Regions from separate parts of the Homo sapiens genome. Here regions 2 and 3 are each linked to region 1. Evidence: fine-mapped expression QTL. A gene starts in region 1. Each other region holds a variant in brackets. All regions are shown on one strand. Distances are between the middles of the regions. Region 1 holds the start of ABCB5 (ATP binding cassette subfamily B member 5). Region 2 overlaps ABCB5 (ATP binding cassette subfamily B member 5). Region 3 has its middle 130 kb from the start of ABCB5.

Evidence for each region. PIP is the estimated chance that this variant, and not a neighbour inherited with it, causes the effect. A credible set is the group of variants that fine-mapping cannot tell apart.
Region 2: its variant is the best candidate, but not a certain one, in a credible set for the expression of ABCB5 in testis (GTEx, PIP 0.55).
Region 3: its variant is the best candidate, but not a certain one, in a credible set for the expression of ABCB5 in monocytes after R848 (Quach 2016, PIP 0.51).

What each region holds. Positions count from the first base shown.
Region 1 is chr7:20,613,510-20,617,758 of GRCh38, reverse strand. It overlaps ABCB5 (ATP binding cassette subfamily B member 5), which reads right to left and starts at 2,092. Exons shown (of 28, transcript NM_001163941.2): 1 at 1,922-2,092.
Region 2 is chr7:20,737,168-20,741,416 of GRCh38, reverse strand. It overlaps ABCB5 (ATP binding cassette subfamily B member 5), which reads right to left. Exons shown (of 28, transcript NM_001163941.2): 24 at 2,278-2,434. Among named protein-coding and RNA genes, the nearest start is that of SP8, 48 kb to the left of the region's middle. The variant C/T (reference allele first, on the strand shown) is at 2,394.
Region 3 is chr7:20,481,544-20,485,792 of GRCh38, reverse strand. No RefSeq gene overlaps it. Among named protein-coding and RNA genes, the nearest start is that of ABCB5, 130 kb to the left of the region's middle. The variant GA/A (reference allele first, on the strand shown) is at 1,946.

The DNA.
Region 1 (4,249 bases):
TGATTTTAACCTATTTGCCTTTAGATCTAAAATGATTCTCTTATTGACAGCATACAGTTAGATTATATATTTTTAATCCATTATAAAAATGCGATTTTTGGGTCTCACTCTAAAACTTCTGAATAGAATCTGCATTTTAACAAGATTGTCGAAGTGGTTTGTAATGCATATCAAATTTTGAGAAACATGACTATATAGTATCTAGCACAAAGCCTTGAGAAACAGAAGGCACTACTTATCTAGAGGAAATTTTATCTTCCTAAATCCAAGATTATAAAAATAAAGTTTAAAATACACCTTAGTGCTGACAACATATTGTTTTTATCTGCTGTTAATAGCACAGTTTTAAAGTATTGTCAAAGGACCTCTGGCATCAGAATCACCTGGAGTGCATGTTAAAGATATCAGACACCTACCTAGGCCTTGCCCCACATGTACTGAATGATAATCTAAAGAAATGCACTGGAAAAAAATCTACATTTTAAACAAGCTCATTAGATGATTTTTTAAAAAAATTTACTCATTCTATAGATATATACTGTGCCAGGTACTGTTTTAAGCACTGAACAGCCTAGACATCTTTGCTGTCATAGAGCTTAGACTCCATTACAGGGAGAGTCACAATTTTAAAAAAAGGCATACATAAATAAGGAAAATTAGAGAGTGGTCAGTTTTTGGTATATAATTAAAACAGGGTAATTTTATGAAGAGTAATGTGGTATTTATATACATCTGGTCAGAGAAAGCCCCTTGTAGAAGATAATGTTTAAGCTGCAATCTGAATTATAAAAGGAGGTTGCTATATAAAGATCAAAAAGACTATCCCAGGCAGAAGGAATACTATTTAGATAGTAGAGAAAAGTGCACTGAGACAAAGCGACACAAGGTCAAAGCAATTTGTGAGCCAGTTGGCAGGTCCTCACTGTATGGAAAGCTACAGGTTGACTATGATGGCTGCCCCCATGTTCCTCTCTGTTACCCAATGTTTCAAAAGGAAGATAAATTTAACTTGAAACTTGTCAAGTTTGAGATATTTGTGAGATAATCAGGTAGTAATATCCAGCACTAAGTAGATAACATGAGAGAAGAACTCTGAACATCTTAATTGCTCTACACAAAATCTATCAGTCAGCCAATTCTTACTTATTGACAGCTGTGTGGATGCTATCATGGCAAGTACTATGGAACATACAAGAAAATGTAAAAATAGACAGAATATTTTATTTATAAGGACTTTTGCCTTAAAAAATATTTCTAGGTTCATGTACCAAGATGGAAATCATAGGACAAAATACCCATGTGAGAAGAAATCATGAGATGCACTTAACGTTCAAGCATCCTTGGTAAGAATAATCTGACAAATAGCTAAGATATACTGGTTGGATGGAAAACATGGGATCTTTGGTTAGATGAAAGAAGATATGGCTGGGCGCAGTGGCTCATGCCTGTAATCCCAGCACTTTGGGAGGCCAAGGCGGCTGGATCATCTGAGGTCAGGAGTTCGAGACCAGCCTGTCCAACAAGGTGAAACCCCATCTCTACTAAAAATAAAAAAATTAGCTGGGCATGGTGCTGGGCACCTGCAATCCCAGCTACTCAGAAGGCTGAGCCAGGAAAATCTCTTGAACCCTGGAGGCGGAGGTTGCAGTGAGCCAACATCGTGCCACTGCACTCCAGCCTGGGTGACAGAGTGAGACCCTGTCACAGGGAAAGAAAGAAAGAAGATATGAATTGTATGGATGCTTTAAAATGACCAAAATAATAGTAGGATGATCATTTCTGACTATGAAAAAGTTTCATACACACACATTTTTGTTTCCATCTTTACCACAAACTATTCTTTCTAAGATGGAGAAGTGTTTTATATTCTTCACAAGCTTCAATTGTTTTCATAATCTCTAATACTTTTGCTTTGACTTACTTTAATTCCTTAGATGCTGTTTTGAGTGGGCCCCATCCAGTCAGTTGAAGTCCTTAAGAGAAAAGACTGAAGTCTTCTGAAGAGGATAGGATAAAGCTTTCAGATACAAGGTATCAATTTTTTGCCAGAATTTCCAGCCTTCTAGTCTGGCTTGTGGATTTTGGAAGTGCCAGTCACCACAATTACATGAGCGTGTTTTCTCTTTCTCTCTCTACATACACACACACACACACACACACACACACACACACACACGGCCTATTGATTCTATTTCTCTAGGGGAACCTAATATACCTGGCAAGACAGACGTTATGTGATGAATAGTACAAAGAGTGACTATTCTAGTATCTAAGAAGACTGAGGAAGAACATTGTGATCTAAAATGGTTTCGCCCACAGATGAGGATGGCCCTGAGGTTAGTTTCTGGAGGAAGGCTAAGGTTTCAGTAAGTAGAAAAATGTGGAGGAGGAACAAGGGCATAGTTTTAGGAATGCAAGGTGAATTATCTCATGGTAGAGAAATGAGAACGGTTTGGATAGGATGGACTGTTCATGCAGAAATGGAGAGAGAGATAAGGTACATACGATTGTAAAAGGCACTGAACCAATTTTTAGGACAACTTTTATAATTTTCTGGAATGAAAGAGACAAAGCCATTGGTATTTGGTACAATTAACCTGATTATTTGACATTACAGCCATGGATATACTGGAAGGACTTGGGGAAACACAAGATTTAAGTAGACTCATTAAAATCTAGTTTGATAGCAGTAAGTAAGACTATTTGAGAGGTATTTTTAAGGCGGTAGGTAGGTAAAGAGGACAAGGAAGAAGAAATAAAAAAAATATAAGTTCAGCGATCAAACTTTTAAAAGTTGTAACAAAAGAGTAGTAAAGATGGTAATAGAGAAGTTATGAGACAGAATTGGTTTTGGGGAAATGGTAACATTCAGTTTAAATATGCAAATTTGGGTTGATATTGGTGTCCAAGTGAAAATATCTGGCAAACAGATGTAAATGTGGCACTAATAATTAGGAAAATTGCCAACCTAGAGATAAACTTGCAATTGTCATATGCACAGAAGGAATAATTAATTTTGCTTTAAAAATCTCATGATGTCATCTAAATGCACAGAAGTGGTGTAATGTAGCTAAAAGTGTTACTTCTAGAGCAGAGCCATCCAACAGAACTTTCTGCAATAATTGAGATATTCTCCACACATCCAATATCCTAGCCGCTACACATATGTGGCTATTGAGCGCTTTTAATGTGCCTAGTGAGGGAGCTGAATTTTGAGTTTTATATAATTTTAATTAATTTATTTTATTTATTCAGCTTTAATATGTATAATTGACAAATACTATTGTCTATATTTAAGGTTTACAACATGATGATGTGATATACATATACATTGTGAAATGATTACTGCAATGAGCACATCCATCACTTCACATATTTACGTGTTTGTGTGTGTGCGTGTCTGGTGAGAACGCTTAAGATCTACTCTCTTAGCAAATTTCAAATATACAATACAGAATTATTAACTGTAGTCACCATCCTGTACCCATCTTATAACTGGAAGTTTGTACCCTTTGACCAACATCTCCCCATTTCCTCCACCTCCTAGTCTCTGGTAACCACCATGCTACTGTCTGCTTCTAGGAGTTTGACTTTTTTTGGATTTCACACATATCTCTGGCTTATTTCACACAACATAATGTCTTCCAGTTCCATCCACGTTGTCACAAATGACAAAGTTCCCTTCTTTTTTATGACTGAATAATATTGCTTTTCTTTATCGATTCATGTGTCAATGGACACTTTGGTTGTTTCCATATATTGGCTGGTGAGAATAATGCCGCAATGGACAGGGGAGTGCAGATACCTCTTTGAAATACTGATTTCATTTCCTTGGGGTATATACCTAGAAGTGAGATTGCTGGATCAGATGGCAATTCTGTTTTTAATTTTTTTAGGAAACTTGATGCTCTTTTCCATAATGGCAGTACCAATTGACATTCCCACCAAAAGTGCACAAGGTTCCCTTTTTCCATACCCCTGTTACCTCTTATCTTTTTTATAATAGCCATTCTAAAGCTAGAAGGTGATATCCCATTGTGTTTTTTATTTGTATTTCTCTGATGATTACTGATGTTGAGCACCTTTTCATGTACCTGTTGGCTGTTTGTATGTCTTATTTGGGAAAAAATATCTATTTGGGTCTTTGCCTACTTTTAAATGGGGTTATTTGTCTTTTTGTTATTGAGTTGTATGAGTTTCTTATATACTTTGGGTGTTAACGCATTATTCAAAATGTGGTTTGCAAATA
Region 2 (4,249 bases), 120 kb before region 1:
CCCTCTCTGCATTTGTATAAAAAAGGTTTTAAAAAAACAGAATACCGCAGAAACATGAAGAATTCAATTATTTTTATGTATGCTCTTGTAAGTATTTTGTATAATAGCTCACAGAGGTATTCTAGAAAACTTCTAAATTTAATACATTTAAAATTTATTCTTACGATTTTTAATTCTATTTAATATGAAAAACTCCAAAAGTATAAAAATAGAGAGAAAAATTTAATAAATGGCCCACATACCTATCACCCAGCTGGAATTTCAATATTTGCCAATTTTGTTTGACCAGACTTTAATTTTTTTTTTTTTTTTTTGAGAAGGAGTCTCGCTCTGTCACCCAGGCTGGAGTACAGTGGTGTGATCTCGGCTCACTGCAATCTCTGCCTCCCAGGTTCAAGCGATCCTCCTGCCTCGGCCTCCCGAGCAGCTGGGGTGACAGGCATTGCCCCCACACCCTAATTTTTGTGTTTTTGTTAGCGATGGGGCTTTGCCATGTTAACCAGGCTGAACTTGAACTCCTGACCTTAGGTGATCCGCCCGTCTCAGCCTCCCAAAGTCCTGGGATTACAGGTGTAAGCCACCACACCCTGCCCAGATTTTAATTTTTAAAAGCGTAGAGTGATATTCAGAAACATTTACATACTAAATAAAATAAGGATTAAATTCATTAATTTTATAGCCTTTATAAGAAACACTTCCATAGTCTATGCCATGCCTATGGTTCTGTAAGGACATAGATCAGTGAGATACTCAATTCCTCTGTTATAATCTGCAGAAAGAAATAGGAGTAGCAATACTGTTATACATATAAATCTTAAAATTAAAAAAAAGCTTCTTACATCCTTTACTTTCCAAAATACAAGAACAAAATCTTATTTTGACTGTGATGTATCTTTGAAGCATTCTATTTTGAGAATTTCCAGATAGTCTTATTTCTGTCACTAACAGGCATTCTTCTTAACCATTGTGTAGCTCTAGTAATGCTGTATTTTAAGCTGTCATACATATAAATCTATTAAAATTCTAGAGGGAAATAATTATAAGTTAAAAACATTTAAGTATATACCTAATGGACTATTTTTATTTTAAAAATTAAAATGTCTAGAAAAGTACTAAAATTGAATGTATATTTAATGTATAAGACTATTATTTATTTTGTATTTATTTATTTATTTTTGAGAGCAAGTCTCGCTCTGTCGCCCAAGCTGGGGTGCAGTGGCGTGATCTCGGCTCACTGCAACCTCCGCCTCCCGGGTTCAAGCGATTCTCCTGTCTCGCCCTCCCGAGTAGCTGGGACTACAGGTGCGTGCCACCACACCCGGCTGAATTTTTTTAATTTTTTTATTTTTAGTAGAGACGGGGTTTCACCATGTTAGCCAGGATGGACTCGATCTCCTGACCTCGTGATCCACCCACCTCGGCCTCCCAAAGTGCTGGGATTACAGGCGTGAGCCACCACGCCCAGCTGTATAAGACTATTATTGAGAGATTTATTTTGAAATTATACACCCTACCTATTATTTCTCTTTTAATATTCACAGTCTTTTAGAGTTTGAGGCTAAATTTGTTTGTGTGCATCAATTTAATAGGTATACTTTCCTTTTTTTCCCCTTTGTTTGTAAATATATTTCCCATGAAAAATGGTGTCTGAAGCAGCAGAATATTATTTACTTTGCATATATTATCAGAGAAAAAAAAACAAATAAACCTTAATACGAATCTTCATCCAAGATCAAAACTTTAGTTTCTCAGTAGAATTCAGTATAAGAATCAATCTTTTTTTTCAAGAACATTCTCATAGCATCAGGCATATAAATTAAAAGCATATATTTTAAAATATGAAATATAAATTTTAGTTGTAGAGGTAAAAATTTGATTAAGACAAGACCCCTTTTCCCCGTTTGCAGCCATAAAATTATTTTGCACAAACTTTTAACTCTTTATGTTACTATGACATTATCTTTTGCAGAGTTTTCCAAAGACAGCCTTCATTTAATAAGTGGACATTTATTTTTTATTTTTATTTTTCATTTATGTTACATTTTATTTTTTCAACTTTTATTTTAGATCCAGGAGTATATGCGCAGGTTTGTTGTCTGGGTATATTGCGTAATGCTGATGTTTGGGGTATGAATGATCTTGTCACACAGGTACTGAGTATAGCACCCAATGGTTAGTTTTTCAGCCCTTGCCCCTCTCTCCCTCCCATCTTCAGTGGCCCCCAGTTCCTACTGTTGCCATCTTTATTTGGACATTTAAGATCACAGTTGTGCTTACTGGCTTTTTCCCTTCTTGACTGCGGCTGTCTATATTTGGTTTCTTTTCCAACAAGGCAAACAGATGCGCAGCCCCCGATTTGGCTTTGGAATATTCAGGAGCCAAAACGAGCGTTT[C/T]TCCGATGGCCATAGCTCCATATGCAATTGCAGTAAAAACTCTATCAAAAGATAAAGCATTTGAATCTTAGGTCCATCGATCCTTTGTAAAACAGTAGAACTCTAAAAGTAAAGAAAAAAGCAGGCACAGGAATATAATCTTTTGATGTAGACGGCACCCCTAACGCTGAAGACCCACCAAGTTATCTCTTTAAAAAATTTCTACCATGTAGTAATCATTCCTTGCTCTGTACACCAAAATGAACTTTGGAGCTTGGGTAATCTTAAAAATGTCTCTTCCAATTAGAGCCACAGATCAAAGGTCCCAACTAGTGAATATAAAACTTCTTAGTCATCTTGATATGAGGCTTGCTTGCTTGGAGATTTGACAGAGAATTCAACTGACAATAGGAAGAATGAATCTCCAGTAGTGAGATCTGGATTTACACAGTAGATATGATTTTTTGTTTGTTTGTTTTGCATATAATGTAGTTAGGACAGATAACTGAAGCTAAATGACTGGTTATCTGTCTGATATGCTACATTATTTAGAGAGCAAATCATGGGGATCGTATTTTCCTCAGGTTCCCAAAGCAAAATCTGACTAAAAAGACTGAAAGAAGAACTTTGATCTTTTAGGTTTGTTATTGATTATGATCTCAGTTTCAAAACATGTTAATTATAAAATGGTAAGTGTGCAAATGATGTTTGGAAGCACACAGAATATTTACTCGACTGTGGCACAGGACCTGACCATGGTTAAATATTTTCCTCTCATTTTCGATTTCATTTTAGATATGAAAGTAGTGTACTAGAATGCAAAACAATGCATCTTAGTAACAAACCTAACGGCACAATCAGGCTAAAACTGGACCAGTGTCGCTGGCAATATTTAAACATTAGGCAGTAAAGGGTCATCACAGAACCCAGTTGCTTGTTTGCAGTGCTGGATAACAGCAAAGTAAACACGTCTGGGCTCCTTGTGAATTTCTCCCTCAATGGGGCCTATCAAAGGGTAGATGTAGATGCTGATGCAATCTCTTCAGTGACCTAGACCTCAGATCCTGAATCCTGTTGGCTTTACAAAGATCAAACACAGTATAAAATATAAAAACAAAAATAACACTAAAATAATTGTTATTTAGTTCAGTGATGTCAAGGCATTTTTTAGTACTGATATTTACAGAAAGTGTTTAAAGCTCAAAATGCCATTTGAATTATTTGATACCCAGCTATAAACATCAGAAATGGTCACTGAGTTTAGGTAACCAAATCAGAAGGTTTTTTTTTTTAAATGTGTTTTTAATGCAAGGAAAAATCAGACTGTCAGACTTAAGCCTCAGTCTGATCCAAGAATCAGCAGGTGAGCTGGGAAGATAATTGGATTATGAGTTAGGAGACCTGGTTTCTAGTCCCAAAGGGGTAGAGGCTTCTCTGAAATCAATAACTGAGAAAATAGCTTCTTCCCATGATTTGAGATATGCTAAAATCTCTACCTGTCCTAACATTCCCACTATAACAGTAATGGTAAGCATTAGACATAAATGTCTAGAGGCAGACATCCTTGTTAGGTCCCTCTGAAAATGGAAATATTAATGAGAAAGGGAGAAGGGCCTTCAACTCAGAGCTTGTGTTTGTGGGAGGTAAATGACCCAAAGGATGGAGAATGGAGCCGGAAGAAAGGGTTCAGTTAGAGAAGGGAGAGTACAAGCAAAAGCCCTGATACCGTCTTTAATGAGTGAGTGCTGAGAGAAACGTAAGTGGGATGGGGGCTGATGCCGATGAGGGTTATGTTGAAGACCCTGGAGGGGAAGTGTGGACTTTGAGGTGTTGGACTATCTGGGGTTGAGTGAGGGACACTAATCTTCTTCATCTTT
Region 3 (4,249 bases), 130 kb after region 1:
TTCATTTCTTTATGATAATGGGACTCTTACAAACAAAACTTAACAGGTTTTTAAAAATATTGAATTTAATATTACAAAATTTATTTTAAATGAAGAATTATTTTAAATGTATAATGATCACTAATATATGTTATTGGTTCTATTATTTTATTATGTGTTTCCTATTTGCCTAAGCTTTTCTGTTTCTCCTTAACTCTTTTCTTACTAGTTTATTGTTGTTTTTTCATTTTAATTATGAGTTTTTTTAACCCATACAGAAATTTTATATTTGTTTGGTTAAATTTATTGATTTTGGGAATTGCATTTGGATTTTGAATTTATAGTTGCCATTTTTCATTCTCATGACTAGTGTATTTCAACATTTCTGAGAAATTCTTACCCTTTATCTATTCTAATTTTGCTTCATCTCAATTTCCTTTATTATTTCTTTTGGAGCCCTGACTAGATGTGTTATCTTAACCTATTTTTAATTTCATAGGTTTTTTATTTTTTCTGGGCTACATTTTGGACAATTTGTTTGAATCTGTTTACTAATTTCTATCCTAGATTTTTATTTGTGTCTGAAAGTCATCTTGGCATTTAAATCCAATTCTTTAAATTTTATTCTCTACCAGAGATTTGACAGACAATAGAGGTGCTGTAAATTCAGACTGTAAATCTCTATGAGGGCAATTTTGTGGTTATGAATTCTCCCTTTTCTCTCCATCCCCACCTCATCTTCCTCTATGACAAGGCTTGAGACAGGCAAATTTCCTTGCTATCTCCTCCTAGGTAACAGGTTTTGCTTCTTCTTCATCTTTATACTGCTGGCAGAAAATCCTATTAGATTTCCCACTTTTCTGAGTAAGTGCTAAGCATTATCACCTGTTTCCTGGATATTGTGCAGTCACTGGAGGAAACTCAGGTGTTCAGGGTTGGGCAGAAACCCTCAGAGGTGACTTTGGCACTGGCTTATCTCCTGAGTTTTCTGTGCAGCAATGGGGAGGTCCCACAAATCCTTTTGTTTGTTTTTAACTCAGTGATACACTTAAAATTTAAACTATTCATATGTACTTATTCAGCTTTTTGGTTGATTTTATCTAGAGAGTAGTTTAAGGTTTCTGGTGGTGTTAGAAAAGAAAGTTTTGACCTAATTTCTTACATCTGTAATTTTACTTCCTCTGCAAAGTCATTATTCCTTAGTGAGTTGTATGTTTTTAGTGGGTGGCTCTGTTGTCAACTGATATTACCATATCCTTTTGGCTATGAGTCAGCTAGCCGGGGATTAAAAGAGAATTATTTTTCCATCTGCTTGTCATCTAGGTTTTAAAGTAGATAATTTCATCTCCTGACAAAAAAAATCTGTTTCTGTATTTTATAAGCAGAGTGTCAACCATGTTGACATTCTGTTTCCTTTTTTGTTTATATTTATCATTTGTTTATATTTATAACATTATATTTTATCATTTTATGTTTCATAACTATTTCTATTTATAGTTTGTTTTAATTATTGTAAATATTTTGACAGGGAAGGTTGTCACATCTCCTTCAATATCAGATCTGGCTTCCTGTCTACTGGTGTTTTTCTGATTGTCATTGTGTGAGTACCAAGAATTGTTTTGGGGTCTTTGACACAACACAAAAATTTAGCAAATATATAGTCACCAGCCTATAGTGCTTCACCAAATCTGAATGTTGCCTTCAACAGAAGACTGTCTGTTTCTTGTTTAGGTTGATATAACTCTCTTTGCTGGTGCTGAATGTTGTCAACCTTGGGCAATCCAGTTGATTTAACCTTGCTTCTTCATGCAAATTTCACTTTTGCATGAGTTTCTTTACCTAATTAAGTTAGAATTTTTGCCTTGATATTCTATCTTCTGAATAATTTTTTCCAAATTTGGGGGACCAAGTTTCAGAGATGAGAGAGCACTGGATCTGGCCACTGTGTGAAAGAGAGATTCTGTCT[GA/A]AACCATCCCCATCCACACAGAAGCACAGATCAGATTTACTTTGATCAATTTCTGAGATTTTGCTACTCAGTTTTTGTAGCCATATTGGTTATTATCATGGATATGTGGTAAAATTATGGAGGACGACAACAGTATTTTGTTTTGTTTTTCATTCCATTCCTTTTCTTTCCTTTTGCCTAGTTATCTTAAACCCAAAAGACCTAGCACTTAGAAGGTCTTCAATTAAGTTTGGATTCAAGCCCAATCTCCAGTGTTGCTTCCTCTGGTTATACTGTCTGTGGGATAATTTATCCTAAATACTATTGTCCAGAGTATATACAAGTTACCTATAGTCAGCGCTTTAGGGAGAGCTTTTAGTAGATGAATTCCTTATTCAAAATGAATGCTCTAGGCTTAGTTAACTAATAATGTATCATTATTAGTGAAATTGAAATGAGTGATATTTAGGTTATGATTGCTTGGAATGGTGATTCAGGACCCAATACTTTGGCCCGAATAAATACACAGGAGAAGATACCCAGTAACCAGGCTGTATGTATCAATGGAGTGGAACTTCAGGTCTGCACTCTAGTGGACCTGCAGACCCCCTTGCCTCAGAGGATCAGGATCAGACTATAGATGCTGACTTTGAGTCCCCTCTGAAGTGGGCGTTCCATACATAGGGCTGCTGGCTATGTCTTAGGTCAGAGAGAGGGACTGTGCTGCTCCAGAAAGTTCACACCTACTCTTTAATAATAAATGTCTGCATCTGACAGAAGGTGGTCTGAAATTTGTTTTACTGCAATCTGTTTTACTGCAGTTGACTTCTTGGAAGTGAGGTACAGGGCTGGAGATTATAGACCCTCTCCCACCTCTGACTATTAGAGGTTTCCAGTGTAGGACTTTATGTTTTTTAAACAGCCACACTGACTGGTTTGCAATGCTTTAGTTTTATAGTTATGTGCTTTCCTGTCTGCTTTTCTAGGTATCAGAAATGCTCTAGGAGCCAGACTCTGGAGTACACTCTGCAGTTGGGGTATCAGGGTCTTGCTTTGACACAGCATATTGTAAAAAACTGAGGAGAGTCTTTTGAATTCTGTAAGTGATAATGATAATTCTTTTTTAGCAAGAAAGAATTGAAAAACACAAGAAAGCATGCATTAAACTTCCTCATTTTTCTAGGTTATATTTCTTTTGGGTGTATCTTTCCTGGATATTTTGTCCTTTTTTTTTTTTGACCTATCAGTACTATTTTCAGACCAAGAGATTATTAATATAAGTTCTTATTCACGTACAAAATGGTAACACATTTGTTTGGGGTTTTATAAAACAAAAAGCCCAGTATTTACAACTTATATGTGATTCATTGTTCTTTGGGAATTAGCTAAACATGGATAATATTACAGCCTGAGCAGCAACTGTGTGTGTTTCATCCATAAGTCACCATATAATTAATTTTTCTGTGGAGGCACCCTCTTCAATTGTCGCATATTCTTTTCCTGAGATCTTGCTGGGCTTTGTAGCACATGTGTTTAAAAACCTCTTTATTCTGAAAAAAGCCACCCATTGCGTAGGAGTGTGAATTCAAATGTTAAGGTCACCATGGAATCCCACAGTTATTCAGTTCAGTAAGATCTGTGTGACATCACACTTTTGTTTAGTATCTTAGGGAAAAAAAAAAGAGGCTAATACTTGGTGCCTCCAAGTGCTAAATGAACCTTTGTTTTCTTCTAAATTCTCTCTGCCTGACCACCAACCAAGGCAAAGGAGCATTTCCCAGCATGTTAAACTTATGCTATATAAAAACAGAGCTGATTAGTTCTTCTCTGGAGTGTAAACCACTGACTTTTCACCATGGATTGGTCTCTTTCTCGCACATTTTTCTCTCCTTCAATGCGCTTTTTCTAGAACATATTCACTCATTAACATTCTGCCCAGCACCCCCAAATTTTTGTCCTTCTTACATGCAAAATATATTTATTCCACCTCAATGGCACCAAAAGTCCTGCTTATTTCAGCATTAACTCTAAACTGTAAAGTCCAAAGGCTCATTGATATGGGTGAGACTTGAGGTACAATTCATCCTAAGGCAAAATTATTCCCCACTTCTGAACCATGAAACGAGAGAAGTTATATGCTTCCAAAATACAATGGTGGGACAGGCATAGGACAGACATTCCCATTCCAAAGAGAAAAATTAGGAAAGAAGGAAGGGGTGATAGGTCCCAAGCAAGTCTAAAACTTGGCAAGGCAAATTCCAGTAAATCTTATGATTGAAGAATAATCCTATTTGGTTAGATCCCCTACCTTCTGGACCCACTGG